3 linked regions of the Homo sapiens genome follow. The protein of the gene in region 1 purifies or fractionates together with the protein of each later gene. This does not show direct contact. Each region holds a gene or a part of one and is shown on either strand. Other genes may lie near its edges.

Region 1 (7,027 bases):
ACTATTTTGCCCAGGCTGGTCTCAAATTCTTGGGCTCAAGCGATCTGCCTGCCAAGGCCTCCCAAAGTACTGGAATTACAGGTGTGAGCCACGTATTCATTTGCAAGGCAGTGTATGAGGAAAAAAAGGAATGGGGAATTAGACTCCTGATTTGACATGCACAAAAAAGTTAGAATCAGTGACTTGCCCCAGATTCAAGTGTCCCAAAAGCAACGGAAATTGACTCTTTGGTAAATATATCAGCTGCTAGAGATGTTTTAAGGTGTCAGAGACTTAAATACTTTAGTTCCTATGGTTCACATGTCAATCACCCAGATAAAAGAGGATTAAGACCAAGGAAAGTAAATATACTAAAATGAGGTACCTGGCTTTGGAAATCTAGCAGAATTTAAGAAAGAGGAGAGCTGACTCTAGGATGAGTATTAGCAATGATGTCCTGGTTTGAGAAGGTCAGGGTTTGTTTAAAAAATGCACTTTTTTTTTTTTTGGAGATGGAGTCTTGCTCTGTCACCCACGCTGAAGTGCAGTGGCATGATCTTGGCTCACTGCAACCTCCACCTCCCTGGTTCAAGTGATTCTCCTGCCTCAGCCTCCCCAGTAGCTGGGACCACAGGAGTGTGCCATCATGACGGGCCAATTTTTGTATTTTTAGTAGAGACAGGGTTTCACCATATTGGCCACGCTGGTCTCAAATTCCTGACCTCAAGTGATCCACCTGCCTCGGCCTCCCTCCCAAAGTGCTGGGATTACAGGCGTGAGCCACTGCGCCCAGCCTTATTTTATTTTTTCAGTAGCAAAGCTCTGCAACCAAGACACACAAAAACAAAATAACTATTTTAATTCTGGTTGAATTTTATAATATGAAAGTCCATATAATATAGTAAAAGAGTAGTCTATTAGAAATCAGGCCAGGTGCAGCTATAATCCCAGCACTTTGGGAGGCCAAGACAGGCAGATCACTACAGGAGTTTGAGACCAGCCTGGCCAACAGGGTGAAACCCCATGTCTATTAAAAAATACAAAAATTAGCCAGGTGTGGTGGCATGTGCCTGTAGCCCCAGCTACTTGGGAGGCTGAGCACAAGAATCACTTGAACCAGGAAGGTGGAGGCTGCAGTGAGCTGAGATCGTACCACTGCACTCTAGCCTGGGTGACAGAGCAAGACTCTGTCTCGAAAAAGAAAAAGAAAACAGACAACTCAACCTTGATGGCTTCCATCTATGGAGCACTTAGTGTATGCAAGGTATTGCACCAAATATTTTAAATGTACCTCATTTATCCTTCAGGATAACCTTAAAGGTACATAATATTATTGGCTCCATTTGAAACAGAGGCTCAGAGACTATCTAGTCCAAAGTTATACAGTTGTGGAGTTAAAATTTGGATCTAAATCTGTCTCCATAGCCTATGCTCTTCTTAACCACACCCTACTATTTCCTCAGTTTAATTGTGCATAACATTGGGTTAGTCTGGAAATTCTACAAATCTGTGACAGCATTCTTCAATCACCACAGTCAGAGCCTATACCTACCTCCACATCAAAGTTGGTCATGTCGGCCTTCCACTTAAAATAATCTTGAACAGCACCCCCAAAATCTCTTGCAGCCTCATTTGAGGTAAAGCAATGTTTCTCTCCTGCCCTGTTGCATGTGACTCTAAACTTCAGCACTTGAGGCTCAGTTTCTTCTTTTGAGCTTTCATCAGTCTCATCTTTGCAAGATGCCAAATCATCACCTATTAATGTTGATACATCCTCTTTGATGGCTGGATTTTCATAATAATCTAAGATATGAGAATCTAAAGCATGGCTAGTGAACTCTTTTTTAACATTTCTCTGATCGATTTTGACTTCTTGTCCATTATTAATCTTCTCTTTACTTGAATTCTGATTTATCTTTTTGCGCTTTGCTTTTTTCTTTTTAAAACTGGCATTAATTTTCCACACTTTTAAGGGGTTTGACCATGGGAGTTTTCCAGCCAAGTCTTCAAAATCCTTTAGAACTTCTTCCTGTAAAGGACAGAGAAAGAAATTCATTCATTTCTCACCACTATAATCAAACAAATAAACCTCTACTTTGCTTATGGACAGTTGGTATCCGTGGGGGACACTGGTTCCAGGACCGCCAAAGACACCAAAACCCAAAGATGCTCAAAAGTCCCTCATATAAAATGGTATAGTGTCTACATATGACCTACACACATCCTCTCAAGAGTAACTTAAATCATCTCTATCTTACCTATGATACCTGATACAATGTAAATGCTATGGAAATAGTTGTTATACTGTATTGTTTGGGAAATAATGACAAGAAAAAAAGTCTGGGCTGGATATGGTGGCTCATGCCTGTAATCCCAGCACTTTAGGAAGCTGAAGCAAGTGGATCACTTGAACTTAGGAGTTTGAGACCAGACTGGGCAACATGGCAAAACTCTGTCTCCACAAAAAAATACAAAAATTAACTGGGCATGGTGGCACGTGCCTGTAGTCCCAGCTACTCAGGAAGCTGAGATGGGAGGACTGCTTGAGCCTGGGAGGTCAAGGCTCCAATGAGCTATGATCACGCCAATGCACTCCAGCTTAGACAACAGAGCAAGATCTTGTCTAAAAAAATAAATCTTTTACAAAAGAGAATGAACACTGACTACAATATTCTTAAGGAAAGAAAGCCTAACTCCAAATTTTATACCCAAACTATCAGCCAAATATAAAGGTGAAAGACAAACATTTCTGAACTCATGCCATTCAACAGATACAAATTATAACAAAAGGACAAATAATGTGCCTATAATCTATTTAATTATATCACTAAAATGAAAACAAGTGTAGGGATTGTGATTATAAAGCAGAAGGTAAATGTTACAAACTGGCATGTAAATGGGCATACTGATACCCTCATCTCTTACACCCAGAGGTCAAAGGATAGAAGTTAAAGCTGATAAATAAAATGTAAGTATATTTAAAAGTTTAAGGGTGAACACTAAGAAAAATAACTGAAAAATAAAGGAAAAAAGTATAAATATGCCAATTTCATCATTGCTTTTAGCAGGGATTCAAAAAATACCGTGTATATATGGTAGATAAGGTAGATAATATCAAATTGTAGTTATAAAGGTAACAGCTAGAACACACACACATAAACCTTCCAAACTATTAGAAAACACAGGCATATGAAAAAAGTAAAGACATAATGTAAAGATTTTTCAAATTAAGAAAAAACAAAAAGTATGAGCATGACAAAACTAAGACTAAACAGTTGTCATTATCAATAAGTATCAATGGGATAAACACAAAGATGACACTCAGTTTGAATATGTACAAGAATTTACATAGTGTATTTGTTGCACCACTGTAATAGCAAAAGAATGTGAAAAACCCTCATGCCCTAAAATGGGACTGGTTAAATTATTATACAGCCAAACAATGGAGTATACGCAGCCAATTCCAGCAATGATACTGCCAGGATCTCCAACATATAGGTTGAACATTCCTAATCTCAAAGTCCAAAATCCAAAACCTAAAATTTTTTTGAAGTGCCAACATGATGCCACACAGGTAGCTGAGATAGTGACACCTTTGCTTTCTGATGGTTCAGTGTACACAAACTTTGTTTCATGTATAAATTATTTTAAAAATCATATAAAATTACCGTCAAGCTATACGTATAACGTATATATGAAACAAATGAATCTTGGATTTATTTATACATAGGTTCCACCCTCAGAGTATTTCTTTCTTTTTTTTTTTTTTTTTTTTTTTTGAGACGGAGTCTTGCTCTGTTGCCCAGACTAGAGTGCAGTGGCGTGATCTCGGCTCACTGCAACTTCTGCCTCCCGGGTTCAAGTGATTCTCCTGCCTCAGCCTCCCGAGTAGCTGGAATTACAGAAGCCCGCCACCGCACCCGGCTAATTTTTGTATTTTTAGTAGAGATGGTGTTTCACCACCTTGGCCATGCTGCTCTCAAACTCCTGACCTCATGATTCACCTGCTTTGGCTTCCCAAAGTGCTGGGATTACAGGTGTGAGCCACCATGCCCAACCCAGAATATTTCAAAAAACAAACAAACAAAAATCCAAAACATTTCTGGTCCCGAGTATTTCAGATAAGGGATACTCAACTTGTATATGAAAAAAAAGCATAGCGCAGAAAAGTATGTATGCTATGCTTTCATTTGTGTAAATAAAATACATTTATTCGTAAAATATCTCCAGAATAATACCCAAGAAATTGCTAACAGTTGTTGCCTCCAGGGAGGGAGCTGCATAGCATGAGGATATAGGAACAAAGACTTACTTTTCACTCTATATCCATTCAGTCTTTACAAGTTTGCTCCAAATACATGTATTAACTAGTCTTTAAAAACCCATATAAATCACAGATTTGTTCATACTTTTAAAAAGGCAGATGGAGGCCAGGCGCGGTGGCTTACGCCTGTAACCCCAGCACTTTGAGAGGCCAAGACAGGTGGATCACGAGGTCAGGAGTTCAAGACCAGCCTGGCCAAGATGCTGAAACCCCGTCTCTACTAAAAATACAAAAATTAGCCGGGCATGGTGGCATATGCCTATAGTCCCAGCTACTCGGGAGGCTGAGGCAGGAGAATCGCTTGAACCCAGGTGGCAGAGGTTGCAGTAGGCTGAGATTGTGCCACTGCACTCCAGCCTAGGCAACAGAGCAAGACTCTGTCTCAAAAAAAAAAAAAAAAAAAATATGCGCGGGTGGAGGTGGGGAATGGGGGCCAGGTGCAATGGCTTACACCTGTAATCCCAGCACTTTGGGAGGCTTAAGTGGGAGGATCACTTGAGCCCAGAAGTTTGAGACCAGCCTGGGCAACATAGTGAGACCCCATCTCAATATTTTTTAAAAGAGGGGGGTGGGGACTAATAAATTCATGATTATCATCTGAATACTTAAGAGAACTCATTAGAATTGCTTTAAGCTTTTCTAAAAGTTAGATTTTTACTTAATACAATTTTTATCTATTTTCAGTCTGACTTTTTTTTTTGAGATGGAGTCTCGCTCTGTCGCCCAGGCTGGAGTGCAGTGGTGTGATCTCTGCTCACTGCCAGCTCCGCCTCCCGGGTTCACGCCATTCTCCTGCCTCAGCCTCCTGAGTAGCTGGGACTACAGGCGCCCACCACTACGCCCGGCTAATTTTTTATATTTTTAGTAGAGACGGGGTTTCACCGTGTTAGCCAGGATGGTCTCGATCTCCTGACCTCATGATCCACCCGCCTCGGCCTCCCAAAGTGCTGGGATTACAGGTGTGAGCCACCACGCCAGGCCCTTAAGTCTGACTTCTTTTAGGTCTGGTCTTATTGTTTTCTAGGCTGAGGGTTCATACAACTTTGACTCGTTTTTGAATAACGTTTTGGAAATCAACATGCTTGCCAATAAATAAAAGTTAGACAATTAGGTAGCGTATCACAGTTGTTTTTAAAAAGATTATTTCTAAGATACGTAAAACTGATAGAAAAATGTTTTTAAGCGGTTAACTCTAGAAACCTAACCAAAAAGCAGTGTGGAAAAAACCTAAAGCCTTGCTGCAATCTATTTTCAACCTTCAGCTTAGGCAGCAGCTGAATATTTAGGATTCAGATGCTAAATACATATTGGAGACAAAGCTGTTGTCCTAACAACTGAAGGAGTATTTAGATGTTATTTTGGCTTTATTTCAAAAAATGAAGAAAGAGAAGAAAGCAGAGCAAAAGCAGGATGGTGAGGAAGTGTTATTTGTAGAAGACACAAACTGTCACTTGTTCTTTGGTTCATGTTCTGGAAGCAATTCTCTTTTGGAACTAAATATATGTAAAAGCAAAGCAAATCTAAGGTTTATATCTCTTACAAGTAAAACAAGGTGTTTTCTTCTTTCTTATAAACTTTAATGGTTTTCAATACTAATTTTCAAAAAACATCTTTTGGGATAGACTGTCAGCAAAACTCTAGATTTTACTGTAAAAGCCTCCCAGTATTCTCTATTACAAAGACTACAGTAATGCTAAACTTTCACAGACTATGAAAAATGGAAATAATCTCTTTGTGGAAGACAGCCAAAAATCAGCCACCATGTTTAGGATAGCTCACCTTTGTTTGTTTGAACTGGTAATCTTGAAACTCCTGAACCACCACAAATAAGTTATCAACTGATCTCAGACAATGAACCTGGGTGAAAAAAAAAGAAACACATTTCTGAGAAAGCTTTTGAACAGCACAAGCTATCAACAATTAAGTATTTAAAAAATTAGGAATGATAGTTTTAAAGCAGCTACTAACTATATTTTGTATTTTTAAAATGTCCCATCTCCCTAGTTTCTCATCTCTTTGGTTACTAATCAGCTTTCCCCTAGAGAAAGGGAAAAAGGGCAGATGGAAAGAGAGAAGCATGAAGTGTTTTGTGGGCAACACGTCTTTTGTGGGAGAAGAGAAAGGTGAAGCCACTCAGGTGGGCTGTATCATATTTCCTCGATGACTTTCTAGGGTACACTGTATGCTGCAATGGTTAAAAGCAGGGGATTTGAGCTCCAGTTCTGTGATTACTAGCTGAGTGGCCCTGGGGAAATTATTTATGTGTCCTAAGCCTAATGATTAATGAGGATAATAATAGTGCCTATCTTCACAAAGCTGCTGAGGGTATTGGCTAAAATATTGGATGGAAAACATTTGCTTACCAATTCATCCCACAGATATTTTCTGGGTACCTACTATATGCCAGACACTAAGAGCGTGGGATATATTGGTGGAAAAAAAAATAGACAACAATCCTTGCCCTCTCACTGCTTATGTGGTAATGAGATATATCAGCTTTATGATAGTGAGATTGCAGTTTTCTGACCTTCACTTTTTACCTTGAGTGAGTCCTAATTACTTCTGAGCAAGAATTTTTGATGCAAATTAAAAGGAAAATCTCTTTTATGTTTCATCACCAAAGGTTAAACATCTGCTATATGCTGAAGTAAATAAATACTGAGATACTTAGAGAATTTCTTAAGTTGAACAGTATTCTTTCTGGTGAATTCAATCCTCAAGAAA
Region 2 (7,027 bases), 3.1 Mb from region 1:
ATATTTAAAAAGAAATGTGACCCCATTTTACCACTGGCTACCATTTGGTCACTACCTGCTCTGCACCAATCTCATGGGAATCCCTTCAGTGGTATCTGTAGACCCTAAGCGCCCTGGACAGGCAAAGCCAACAACACATGGCTCTTTGGGTGGTGTCAGTGTTTGGCAGTGTATTACTTTAACAGAAAGCCATTTTCATTTCCATTTAAGTGTGACTATATTCAACTGGAGCCAATTTTCTTTGCCATTCCTACAGCCTCCCCCCACACAGTAAAATATATCATTATGTGAGGTCAGTGCAAACATAGGGTTCTAGAAAATCACTTCACCAAAGATGACTGGGAAACTAGTATTTTGTCAGGTAAGCAAAATCAGCACTGCCCCACACTTTTCACACCTTTTTTTTTTGTTGATATATTTTTCTCAATTTAAATATGGTTATTTAATTTTACAGGGAGAAACTCCAATGAGCAACAGTTTCTATTGCTATAGCTGTTAACATCATTCTTCAGTTATATAGGTTTTTTAGGGAATAAATATGGAAACATTCATAAAAATCTTTTATTTTTATTGATTTAAGCCAGTTTGTAACATTTGTATTTTCTTAGATTTTTAAAAAAATCTAAGACATTTGAATGAACCATTTATATTAAAAATATGTGACTTTTGGCCAGGTGTGGTGGCTCACACCTGTAATCCCAGCACTTTGGGAGGCCGAGGCAGGTGGATCATGAGGTCAGGAGATCGAGACCATCCTGGCTAACACTGTGAAACCCGTCTCTACTGAAAAAAATACAAAAAATTAGCCGGGCGTGGCGGCGGGCGCCTGTAGTCCCAGCTACTCGGGAGGCTGAGGCAGGAGAATGGTGTGAACCCAGGAGGCGGAGCTTGCAGTGAGCGGAGATGTGCCACCGCACTCCAGCCTGGACGACAGAGTGAGACTCCGTTTCAAAAACAAACAAACAAAATATATGTGTGTGTGTGTGTGTGTGTGTGTGTGTGTGTGTGTGTGTGACCTTTTTGATGATGACTTAAGAGCATTTGTATTTGAGGTGAAAAGAGATCAGTCTGTAAAATGGTTTCACAAGAATGTGAAACTATTTGTAATGAGCATTTTCTGCTTGCTGTATTTTCAGGCCTTTTTCTTGGTCTATGCTCTGGGATGTTTAAGTATTTACTATGAGAAGGTAAGATGCTTTGTTTACATACAACCCACTTAAAATTTCCCTGTTGTTAAAAGCAGGTTGTACTAATTTCTATATTGCATTAATACAAATGTTTCTACTCTTACTGAATAAAATAGGAATTGAATTTTTCTCTAAAGTTTTGGATTTGGGTCCTGAGGTGGGACTGTTCGAGCAAAAGGCATCTTTGACCCTTTTAGATTGCATTTCATTCCTCAAAACTAGGAGAAGTACAGTATCTTGTACTGGATAATGATTAGGAAATCTGTGTCAGAACAGTATTAAAAATTAACAAAAATAAAAGTTACCCGTATTTGGCACCTACTATGGTAAAAGCTATATTTTAGGTACTTTACACGCAATATTTCCAGTCCTTATCTCCACCTGGTTAGAATTTGCAGATAAGGGGCCGGGCCCGGTGGCTCACGCCTGTAATCCCAGCACACTGGGGGGCCGAGGCGGGCAGATCACAAGGTCAGGAGATCGAGACCATCCTGGCTATCCTGGCTAACATGGTGAAACCCTGTCTCTACTAAAAAAATACAAAAAATTAGCCGGGCGTGTTGGCATGCGCCTGTAGTTCCAGCTAATCAAGAGGCTGAGGCAGGAGAATGGCATGAACCTGGGAGGTGGAGGTTGCAATGAGCCGAGATAGCGCCACTGCTCTCCAGCCTGGGCGACAGACCGAGACTCTGTCTCAAAAAAAAAAAAAAGAATTTGCAGATAAGGTAACTGAGGCTCAGAGAAAATAAATAATGTACCCAAAGTCACACAGCTAGTCTGGTTAGAATAAATATTCGAACCTATGTCCAAGTAACTCCAAAGCCCATGACTTTGTGCTGTTGTTGCCTGCTGCCTTTGGAAGGGAGATAATTGTAAAATAATTCAAATAAAATTTAAAAGAGAAAAGTAAACAGAACAGTAAATGGAGCAGATAAGGTATATTCTGTTTGGCTCTTGGGAGCACATAATTTAATCAGTCATCAAATTCTGATTGCATAAATACCGTTCATGGGTATTCCAGCCGTTTGGAAGCAATGTCTGCCTGACAAATGGCTCATTTTCCCAAATGGTGGCAATTCTTAGCCCCACCCTGCTTCCTCTCGCGGGCCTTAGCTGAAATGTGTCAGAACGTTACAGCTGTGACATAAAAGCCTCAACATCTGAACAACACTGGGCTGTGTTGGAAATTCAGCCTTCTCTATAAGGCTGTTGCTTGTTACTCACATTGGGGTCACAAGGTCACACAGGTATGGAATTTTTGCATTAGGAACAACTGCAAAAAAAAAACAACTCTAGTCTATTGTATTATAATCTTAGGCTGGGACAAACTGAGCCAGTCTCACTGAGTGACTGAGCCTTAAATCAGCTGAAGACTTGATTGTTTCAGTAACTACTGAAATAAAGCAAAAATTTTCCAAACTTACCTAGTTATTTTGTTGTCATTGTATTTTTGGTAATGATACATCAGAATATTCTCTAGACCAAACTATTCTCATTCTCTTTGACTCCCACATTAAAAACAAAATTGTCTTTTAAGCAGTTAATTATTAGTTTGTGCCATCAGATAACAAATTCTCTAGTTTCAAACACTAAATGGAGGTTTGTTTGTTTGTTTTTAAGTTTTACTATAAAAGTGTTTTTTGTTCTTCTGAACATGAGCTGACATAGAGTAGCCACTCACTAAGGGTCTGTGAAATGTTGTCACGAACTGTGCTCCAGCCTTGGTGGGCTTGTTACAGTGAGCCCCCTGCATGCACTGCTTCCTCTGCCTGGAATGTCCTTCCCAGCCCACCACCACCCCCTCCAGTCCTTTTCCCTCACTACTTGTCATGCTCAAATGCTGCCTTTTCTAAGTCCTCTGGAGCAGTGCTGTGCAATAGAAGGACAGTGAGAGCCTCAGATGGGAGCCATGTGTATAATTTCAGATTTTCTGGTAACCACATTAAAAACATTTTTTAAAAAGCAGGTGGTATTTTAATACAGTATTACACAGTTTATTTAACCCAACTTATTCAAAGATATTGAAATAGTTTATATTCTCTCTTTTTTTTTTTTTTCATACTGAGTAGGAAGTCAGTGTATATTTTACACTTAGAGCCACTCTCAGTTCAGACTAGCTATGTATGGCTGGCAGCTGCCCCACTGGACAGGGCAGGACCAGACCTTCTTGCTAAATTGCTCTGCTGGGAGTGAACCGAGATCACGCCACTGCACTCCGGCCTGGGTGACAGAGCGAGACTCTGTCTCAAAAATAAAATAAATAAATTGCTCTGCTGGGGGAACTGCATTTTCTTCACTGCTTCAGCTCCACACTTAGTATAGATGTTGGTGCCCTGGCTGAACGGAGAGTGAATGCATACATAGTAATGCTTTTTGTTTTTTTGTAAATAACTTTAGGAGCCTTTAACGATAGTGAAGCTCTGGAAAGCTTTCACTGTAGTTCAGCCCACGTTCAGAACCACCTACATGGCCTACCATTACTTTCGAAGCAAGGGCTGGGTGCCCAAAGTGGGACTCAAGTACGGGACAGATTTACGTAAGTAATTCTTGGCGTGGTGTGTGTGAGAATAGAGTTTATATCAGATTCACCCTAGAATATCAAATTGATCTTGTGTGCTGTTGATGATGTTTTCTAAGAAGGTATCCTTTGGGTTTAGATAAGATTATTGGATATTTGGATTGGGTTAAGGGTAAGTGCAAAAAGAGAAAAGGCAGTCTAGGGAGAAGGCCTAGGAGTAGAAGCTTGCAACGCCAGTTCAGGCTTTCCCTCTTGTTTGCTCTATGATCTTAGAAAAGCGTTCTGGCTGAGCGCCGTGGCTTACGCATGTAATCCCAGCACTTTGGGAGGCCAAGGTGGGTGGATCACGAGGTCAGGAGATCGAGACCATCCTGACTAACAAAGTGAAACCCCTTCTCTACTAAAAAATATAAAAAATTAGCTGGGCGTGGTAGCGGGTGTCTGTAGTCCCAGCTACTCGGGAGGCTGAGGCAGGAGAATGGCGTGAACCCGGGAGGCAGAACTTGCAGTGAGCCGAGATCGCGCCATTGCACCCCACCTGGACGACAGGGCAAGACTCCGTCTCAAAAGGAAAAAAAAAGAAAAAGCATTCTATAGCACCCACCCCCACGTCTCTAGCCATGAGATCGGGTAATTTGGGAGAGTCCCTTATCCCCGGGCCTCAGTGGCCTCATCTGCCAAGTGAGAACAATCATATAATTGTAATAATCGCCACAGCCATCATTGAGCACTTGCCATGTGCCAAGCATTTTACTAAGTATTTTACATTCATCATCTTGTTTAATCCTTACAGTAGTCCTATGCAGTGGAGACGCTTACTGTCTTTTTTTTTTTTTGAGACGGAGTCTCGCCCTGTTGCCCAGGCTGGAGTGCCAGTGGCACAATCTTGGCTCACTGCAACCTCCACCCCATGGGTTCACGCCGTTCTCCTGCCTCAGCCTCCCGAGTAGCTGGGAATACAGGCGCCCGCCATCACACCCGGCTAATTTTTTGTATTGTTAGTACAGACAAGGTTTCCCCGTGCCAGCCAGGATGGTCTCGATCTCCTGAGCTCGTCATCTGCCCACTTCAGCTTCCCAAAGTGCTGGGATTATAGGTGTGAGCCACCATGCCGGCCGTATTGTCTTCATTTTCTGATAGGGAGACTACAGTTTAGAAAAAGTAGGTCATTGCCCATAATAGTTTCCAGGGCCAGTAACTTGCAAAGCTGCACTTTGAATTCTGAAGCCCACGCTTTTAGAAATGTCTGACAGTACTGCCTCCCTTGATCTTTTCTTTTTAATTAAATCAATATTTTACTTATTTAATTTTTTTAACTTTAAATTTAGGGCCAGGTGCGGTGGCTCACGCCTGTAATCCCAGCACTTTGGGAGGCCGAGGCGGGCAGATCGCTTGAGGTCAGGAGTTTGAGACCAGCCTGACCAACATGGTGAAACCCCGTTTCTACTAAAAATACAAAAATTAGCTGGGCGTGGTAGCAGGCACTTGTAATCCCAGCTATTTGGGAGGCTGAGGCAGGAAAATTGCTTGATCCCGGGAGGCAGAGGTTGTAGTGAGCTGAGATCACGCCACTACACTCCAGCCTGGGTGACAGAGACTCCACCTCAAAAAAAAAAAATTTTTAGGTTCAAGGGTACATGTGCAGGTTTGTTACATGGGTAAATTCATGTGACAGGGGTTTGTTGTACAGATTATTTGATCACCCAGGTACTAGGCCTAGTACCCAGTAGTTATCTTTTCTGCTCCTCTCCCTCCTCCCTCTCTTCACCCTCAGGTAGACCCCAGCGTCTGTTGTTCCCTTCTTTGTGTTCATAAGTTCTCTTCATTTAATTCCCACTTACAAGTAAGAATATGTGGTATTTGGTTGTCTGTTCCTGTGTTAGTTTGCTAAGGATAACAGCCTCCAGCTCCATCCATGTTCTCACAAAAGACACGATCTTGTCCATTTTTGTGGCTGCCTAGTATTCCACTGCATCCCCCAATCTTAAAGTGAGGGTCTGGAGTAGGTGAGTTCCTCATTCAGCAGATAATGACTAAAGGTCTGCTGTGGGCCAGGTACTGTTTGAGGCATCAAGAATACAGAAGTGAACAGGACAAACAGAGCTGCCTTCATGGAGTTTACATTCTAGGGGGATGGGGGAGACACACAAGCAAATAACTACATGACGTAGTTTCTGCAACAGATAAGCACTGTAAGAAGAAGCAGAGTCAAGGCTACCCAAGGTCAACTGTAGTCAAAAAGATTCAGATATCTGCTGGGCACAGTGGCTCACGCCTGGATTCTCAGCACTTTGGGAGGCCGAGGCAGGTGGGTCACCTGAGGTCAGGAGTTTGAGACCAGCCTTGCCAACGTGGTGAAACCCTGTGTCTAGCACAAATACAGAAATTAGCTGGGTGTGGTGGTGCATGCCTGTAATCTGAGCTACTTGGGAGGCTAAGGCACGAGAATCTCTTGAACTTGGGAGGCAGAGGTTGCAGTGAGCCAAGATCACACCACTGCACTCCAGCCTGCACAAGAGAGTAAGAGTCTCTTAAAAAAAAATAAAAATAGGCTGGGCGCGGTGGCTCACGCCTGTAATCCCAACACTTTGGGAGGCTGAGGCGGGCTGATCATGAGGTCAGGAGATCGAGACCATCCTGGCTAACACGGTGAAACCCCATCTCTACTAAAAATACAAAAAATTAGCCAGACGTGGTGGCAGGTGCCTGTAGTCCCAGCTACTCAGGAGGCTGAGGCAGGAGAATGGCGTGAACCCAGGAGGCGGAGCTTGCAGTGAGCCGATTGCGCTACTGCACTCCAGCCTAGGCAACAGAGTGAGACTGTCTCAAAAAATAATAATAAAAAATAAAAATAAAAAATAAAAATTAAGATATTTTGAGAGATCAGATTCTCATAACTTTCATTATAGTGTATTGTTATAATTGTTCATTTTATTAATGTTCTTAATCTCATACTGTGGTTCTTTTGTCTGCAACTTTATTTTAATGATCAAGTTATACTTTGGATGATGCATAGGGGAAGCTTCCTTAATTTAAAGATATTCTGCCTTATAAGGATGGTTGGACAGATGGATAGATGGATGGACAGATAAATAGAATTTTGAAAACAAAAAAGATAAACTACTCAGTTTACAACTCCCCTGGAGGCCTTTGCCCTCACTGGGACATATCATCTAGAAACAGATGTACAATTAATACATTAATTGTACAATTAATGTGGGACCAGGTCTCTGACCCACACACAGAGTCAGACTGGGCCAGCATCAGTGTTAAAAGTGTCTTCACATTCTCTGCATAAGCAAAGGTTCTTGAGCAGTGCTAG
Region 3 (7,027 bases), on another chromosome or scaffold:
ACCCTGCTCAACAACACTTTCCCAAAAGCCTTCTAACTTATAACCTCCATAAATGTCTTATTTCCCCAGTCTCCCATTATACTTCGTCGGTACTCATCCACAGCATTTTGAGGCTTTGTGTTCCTATCTAGCTTCCCAACATGAAGAGAGAACCATATTTTAGCCAGTTACATATCCAACATAGAGCCTGGCACATGGCTGGATGTCCCATTTGCTTCTGAATTGATCAGATGGAGTGAGTACAAAAGTAAGAATGAAGAACATTGAAATAATTCATTCCAAGGGAAAATCATGTGTTCCTAATTCTATTTCTTAAGAATAATAAGAGGTTCTCTAATAGAGCACCTCTTTATGATATAAAATCAAGTGCCACAGTTCTTTGCTTGACTCATACAAAATTAGCATAATTTTCTGAGAGAACAAGCAATAGAGAGGAATCTAAAGAGATACTCACCTAGTCTCTCACTCTGTAATGCAGCAGCCTGATTCATGTAAAACACACCAATTTCATTTCTAATGTTACCCATTCTCTTTAATACTTGTACATAGTGTTCTGGATTTTGGCTTTTCAAGTCACTAAACTGCAAGATTTCATTAGCAGCCTCATAACATTTACAACTAACAGAGAGTTGACTTTCTAAGTCTGTAGACAAATCAGTTGCCCATGCAAATCCTGAAAAGAAAAAAGGGATACATCAATGCGAATCATGTGATTCCTTCTTCCTCAGTATCCAAATGAACCTGAGATTCTAAATTCTAAGTAATAAAAAATGCAATATAGTGTAAGTATACCAAGATTCAATCAATACAACAATATTTAAGTTTCATAATAAAGATCTATTTATTTATAAAATTATATTTCTTGGGATATTAATGTTGGATAAAAATATTTTCCTGCCTATGAATATCAAACAATTTCTGTGACCCAGGTTTTCCCAGGTACACTTGTTTATTAGAATGGACCTAAAGTTGTCCACTAATACAAAGTAAAGTTGCTATTTTTAACTAATGGAAATAGTTCTTGAAATAATGTCCCAATATTAACTTTAAGTCACTGAAGAGGCTGCTACAGAAGCCCTCGAAGATTAAAAATGCCATCTAGTGGGGACTAGAGTAAAAAGAATATTTAACTGAAATTGCTATGATGGGAGTAGTAAAAATACACCAAGGACTTTCCTACTACATTAAAACATGATTATTTGAGAAAGACGGAGAGAGGGGAAGAAAGGGCAAAACTATTACAAAATAACACATTTTTCCCTCTCCCCCAGTATACTCCTCTAGCTATGAATTGTCTAAAACTCTGGGAGGCAAACATCAAGTAATATTCAGTATAACAATTTAAGAGCATAATAAAACAACCCCATGAGACATTACAGAAGCACCTTCAGAAGACTCATCTTTTACTTCATTCACTGTGTTAATGGCAGCGTGGTTACACACTGTGCTGAGGTAAGAGGGAGGGATATCGCTGCTGCGGATCAGATTATTCTACTTCCCAGTTTTAAAGCCTGACAATTCCAAACAGAGTGACATATTAAGCAAGACAGGTGGCTATGAACTAACTTTAAAAACAATGATCACTTTATTTCAGCCCCAAGGAATCATTCAGAAGGTTAATTAACCTCCTTCACCAACTGTTATACCTTTCAAAAGGAAACCTATGGCTTTGTTAGCTGACTACAAGTGTTACCTAGAAGAACCTCATGAAAAGAAGAGTGTAAAAAGCTGACACAAGGCTGGGTGCAGTGGCTCGTGCCTGTAATCCCAGCACTTTGGGAGGCCAAGGTGGGAGGATCGCTTGAGTTGAGGAGTTTGAGACCAGTCTGGGGCAACGTGGTGAAACCCTGTCTCTAACAAAAATACAAAAATTAGCTAGGTGTGGTGGCGCATGTACTAGTCCCAGCTACTTGGGAGACTGAGATGGGAGGATCACTTGAACCCAGGAGGTGGAGGTTGCAGTGAGCCAAGACTGCCCCACTGCACTCCAGCCTGTGTGGCAGAGCGAGACTGTGTCTCAAAAAAATAAATAAATAAAATAAAATAAAAAGTTGACACAACTGTCTTCATATCTTACTTTATATTTAGTTCTAGTTATATAAACAGTAATTATAAAATACTTAAAAACCATTTTATACAAATACACAAGATCATGCTTAATCTTAAAATTAGGAAATGAATAAAACAGCAGGCCAGGCGTGGTGGCTCACACCTGTAATCCCAGCACCTTGGGAGGCCAAGGTGGGCTAGCCGGGCATGGTGGCGCATGCCTGTAATTCCAGCTACTTGGGAGGCTGAGGCAGGAGAATTGCTTGAACCCGGGAGGCGGAGGTTTCAGTGAGCCAAGATTGCACCATTGCACTCCAGCTTGGGCAACAAGAGCGAAACTCCGTCTCAAAAAATAAATAAATAAATACAGAGCAAATATCAAAACTCTAATATTTCTACCCCTTTTCTGAATACTCAAATAAGCATGAGCTAGACTGCACAGTCCCACTGTGAACCACGTGGTCCAAGCCTGTGGCACACCTTGGCAACTGGACTCTCTGTGAAGGCTATGCAGGATCTCCTGGTCTTCTTTTGTTTGGTAATGAAACTCTTCAAGGTGTGCTGCTCTATTATTTGCATTCTGGGCCAGCATTAGTTGGATATCACCACAAAGTGTCAAATATTGAGAGAGAAACAACAGCACTTCGGAAAGCATATTGGTGCAGAGGCAGCAATAAGTATCTGTTTAGAAAGGGAGGGAAGAAGAAAAAACACAAATGCAGAAAAAAATTAATGATCATAGGAAATATGAAGAAACTGTGTTACCAGCTGAACGCTTTGTAGCACTGTATCTATTCTGTTTATTTTAGGTCCAACAATACATATTACGGCTTCATGTAGTTCAAAGCAAAGAGATGTTAAACCACTGAGCAGAAACTAAAATAGAAGGTAACACACACAGGATTGGAAACAGTCATTTTAAAATAAAGATTTACTAGAAAAATAGGAGTAAACTTCCACTGTGATTCAGATGCCTTCTCTGTTCTCTCTTCCCAGTGCCTATTAAACATATTCATTTATAGTGGCTTACCATGGCTTTGCAAAGCTAATTTAATGTATCGTAATGCTCTTCCGTATTTCTGAAGACTCATGGCAGCATCGGACAAAACATAATAGGCCTTTGATGACTTGAGAATCAGCTGAAGTTTCATTTTATGTTGCCAAGAGCCAGGGATCATTCCAGATTGACTGGAATAATTGCCCTTCTGAAGGGAGCCCACTGTGACATGGAGAGAAAAAAAAAGACAGCACATTTCATTTGACTGTAAGTCTCATGCACAAAAAATATTTTCTGTTTCTTGATGGAAACACTCTAGACTTAGGTGACAAGACTGGTAAATACTATGCTTTACTGCTTAAATACACTGGAGTGAAATGGCCGTGTTAAAAGACTCTCACTTGGGAGTTCTAAGGCCTTCTGCTTCCCTGACATCGGCAACTCTGTCATTCTCTTCCAGTGTCACTGACATAGCTAACCTCATGAGTGACACCTGTCTCCTTTTTCCAGTCTATGTGTCAACCTGTCAAAGTTTACCTTCCTAAAGCACAGCTTAGATCAGCGTGAAAGCCTGTCCTCAAACATGAAAACGGCTTCTCCCCACTTAGCTAGTTGCATGTTTCTCAGTCTCACTTCCTACTTGTCCATCCTACTACCCATCAGCCAATGTTAAGTTACTGCTTGTCACCTATAAACATGCCTGTTTTTCCTATCTCCCATCTTAGTTTACTGTTTCCTCTACAAGGAATACTCTTTATTTAAAGTCCAGCCCATCGCTACCTTCTTTACTCAACAAATGATCATTTTTCTGCCAAGTACTGTGCCAGGCACTGGAAACTGTGACATGAAGTTATATGGCCTCTATCCTTGATAACATAAACCACAACAAAATATGTTAAGTGTAATTAACAGACAAAGAACAAAATACTGTGGAAAATTTTGCTCTGCAAATAACAAAAACACCCACCCCTTCCCCCAGCCTGAAGGTTTCTCATTTTTTAATCAGCTAGAACACAAGTCTTTCAAGGCAATGAAAGGTACTTAGTCTTCATTATGGTTTAATGTGTGTATGGATTTTTTTCCTCTGCTGATATAAGCATCATCTGTGAGTAAGAGGCATTGTGAGAAACTAAAATTAAGATGAAGTTCTTGTTCACAACCGTGTGTGTGCATGTGTGTGTAAAACCATTTAATGCTGGAACTCTGACATAAGGCAGGCTCACAGGACAAAGTGGTAAGAGAATCAAGTAATTCTGATGGAGAACAGAGGGAAACATGGAGATTCTGAGCTTGAGCAGGATTTTCAACAGGGGAGATGGAGAAGGAGACAGAAAAGGCATTTCAGAAAAAAAGAATGGCAAAAGTCCTGGTGTGATCTCCTTACTGCCTGTAGGCCGAAGCCTGGCATACCAGCAGCACTATATAAATGCTGGGGAAATAAATCTATTCCTCTCCTACCTCCACCATGTTTGTTCAGGAAAAGAAGAAGGGTCCAGAAAGCGCTTCCACTATGATTCAGATGTACTTCAAACATACAGGCTTTCTACACTTTTTTTTTTTTTAAACAATTGAAACTGATTTAAAAGGGGGAAAGAAATAAGGTTGGAAAAAGAAATACAACTTAGGTTAAAATAAGAAATTCACAACTTCTGCTTCGAAGTCCATATATTCTTCATGATGTTATATTCCTGAAGAACTAGATAATTTAAAAGTGACATTTGTAGCTTATTCAAGTACTGTGCAGTAACAACAGCCTACACTTCTATAGTGCTTATTATGTACACTGTTCTGAGCACTTTACATATATTAATCATTTAATCATTTAACAACCCTTTAAAGAAACCATTATTATCGTCTCCATTTTGAAAGAGATAAAAAGTGACTCAAAGAAGTGGAGCAACTTGCCCTCGCAAAGCCAAGATATGAAGTTAGGCAGTCTGGCTAAGTCTGTGGCTCCTACACGATCCAGCGAGAACTCCACCAGGCTGAAGCATTAGTTCCCCACTGTGGGTAACAGGAAGATGCAGGCTCCTTATGCTCTTATTAGAAATGTCCATGAAACATCAAAATTATCCTTTTTATATTTCAAATGAAAGAATACTACCCCTAATTCCAGTTCACAGGATATCTTTTTCTCAATGCCTTTCAATTAATGCCTTAATTGACATAAGTCTGCTGTTGATAAAGAACCAGTGTATTATTCTATTGAAGGCCTTATTTGCACATCAATTCAACTTACTTTTGTCCAAAAACAAGGCCATCTGCTTCTCTAGCCCCTCGGGACCCCCTCTTGAGGATTCATCTTCATATTTTAACGGGATTGGAGTGCTGGGGTCAGCTGCTGGAAGGTCGCTTTCTTTTTTGATGCTGCTATCGACAGATTTTAAACCCTGCAAAAAAAGGAAAAGCATTCACTATCTATCTAACTTCAGGTCAACTGAAAACTAAATATAAGACAGTATCTGGACTACTGAATACGTTTAGGAAAATTTCCATCTCACAAACAGACTTTCAAAAACTATGTTTGATCTGAAAGATTTGGGAAAAACAAATCTGATTTTCACTTTATGCTTAAGGAAAAAAAAATCGCAGCAGAACACAATTCAGAATAACATTTAGATACCAACAAACAAGTGTAATTTGCATAATCAAGTACAAACTTTACGAAAAAAGTGAAGACTAAACTTAAACTTACCTCTAGAACATAGCTAAGCACAAGTCTACAGCGCTCTTCTGTGTCATGGCAAACTGGAAATGCACAACTGGGCTTGAGGAACAAACATAAAATTATTAATACACTACCAATGTATTAAGGTCAACATATTGTTTTTGTTGAAGATTAAATTACTGTAAGCATTATCAACAAAAATCTTGCTTAAAAAGATCCTACAACATATATGTTGCTTTAAGTACTTACAATTTTAAATACAATTCTATTATGACAAAAAAGCAAGAACTAGAGTAGTAATGTTTTAGACAAATATAGACATCATCTAATAGGTCAGCTCCACTCATAATTAGCACCGATACTGGACAAAACACAATTAACAATTAGCGTCAATTTAGAAATAACAAGTATCACCAATATTCTCGTTGTTTAATTTATTTGCTTAATTAAGGAGCAAAAGCAGCTAGCAACCTCCAACTATGAAGGATATTATGTGTAGGGGCTTCTGTGAAGCATTTCATTTCGCTGAATCCCGTGGGGTTGGAATTACTGTTCTCATTGCACAGAAGAGAAGCATGCACAGACAGTTTAGCAATTTGTCTGAGGACACGGTGAGTGAGTGGGGAGCTGGGACCCTGGAGCTCATGCTGACTGTCCATACCACAAAGTCATTCAATGAGGATAAGGAAAGGCTAACTAAAGACATGTTTATATGAATACTAAGACTGCATTTTTTGAGTGCTTCAGATACGGAACAGAAAGTGCTATCTGTGAAAAATAGTGACACTAACTCATTACATCTTTAATTATTACCTAATTGCCCCGTAAGTCCATGGCCTAGTGTTACAATGCAGTTTTCCAGATACATGTAACTTTTGCAATCAATGATTATAACCAGAACATTTTTTCACTCCACTGTGGAAGTTCAAGCTGAAAGTGAACTAAAATTTAGATGGACAGTTAATGACTTTTTCCTGCAGTCATTTAGTCAAATATTTACTGAGCACCCATAATGTGTTCTAGACATGGGAGATAGAGGGTCTGTACCTGCAGGGAGCTTACGTTCTAGTGAAGCAAGACAAACATTAAGAACTTCAGGAACAGATAGGCTCCTTGAAGGACAAAAAAGTAGAGCATGCTTTGGCCAGAGTGGTCAGGGAACATCTCCCTGAAGAGGCAACATTTCAGTCAAGACTTAAGCCTTAAAAAAGGCAGCCATGAACAGACCTAGGGTAGGTACATTCCAAGCAGAAGCAACAGCAAATACAAAGACCCTCCAATGAGCATAATCTTGATGCTTTTGAGAGAAAAAA

Evidence for each region. Proteins that work in one complex are often made in the same cells at the same time.
Region 2: the proteins of THUMPD3 (region 1) and TSEN2 purify together in Homo sapiens (co-immunoprecipitation; 2 studies listed by BioGRID and IntAct, with this or other methods). This does not show direct contact.
Region 3: the proteins of THUMPD3 (region 1) and EDRF1 purify together in Homo sapiens (affinity purification with mass spectrometry; 2 studies listed by BioGRID and IntAct, with this or other methods). This does not show direct contact.

What each region holds. Positions count from the first base shown.
Region 1 is NC_000003.12:9,366,041-9,373,067, reverse strand, and holds part of THUMPD3 (tRNA (guanine(6)-N(2))-methyltransferase THUMP3), read right to left. Parts: intron 6,161-7,027; coding exon 6,083-6,160; intron 2,009-6,082; coding exon 1,532-2,008; intron 1-1,531. UniProt on the Homo sapiens protein: Catalytic subunit of the THUMPD3-TRM112 methyltransferase complex, that specifically mediates the S-adenosyl-L-methionine-dependent N(2)-methylation of guanosine nucleotide at position 6 (m2G6) in tRNAs.
Region 2 is NC_000003.12:12,515,475-12,522,501, forward strand, and holds part of TSEN2 (tRNA-splicing endonuclease subunit Sen2), read left to right. Parts: intron 1-1,136; coding exon 1,137-1,187; intron 1,188-3,584; coding exon 3,585-3,723; intron 3,724-7,027.
Region 3 is NC_000010.11:125,736,704-125,743,730, reverse strand, and holds part of EDRF1 (erythroid differentiation-related factor 1), read right to left. Parts: intron 5,814-7,027; coding exon 5,742-5,813; intron 5,437-5,741; coding exon 5,286-5,436; intron 3,269-5,285; coding exon 3,080-3,268; intron 2,731-3,079; coding exon 2,530-2,730; intron 1,512-2,529; coding exon of another isoform or gene 1,492-1,511; exon of another isoform or gene 817-1,491; intron 674-816; coding exon 455-673; intron 1-454. UniProt on the Homo sapiens protein: Transcription factor involved in erythroid differentiation. Involved in transcriptional activation of the globin gene.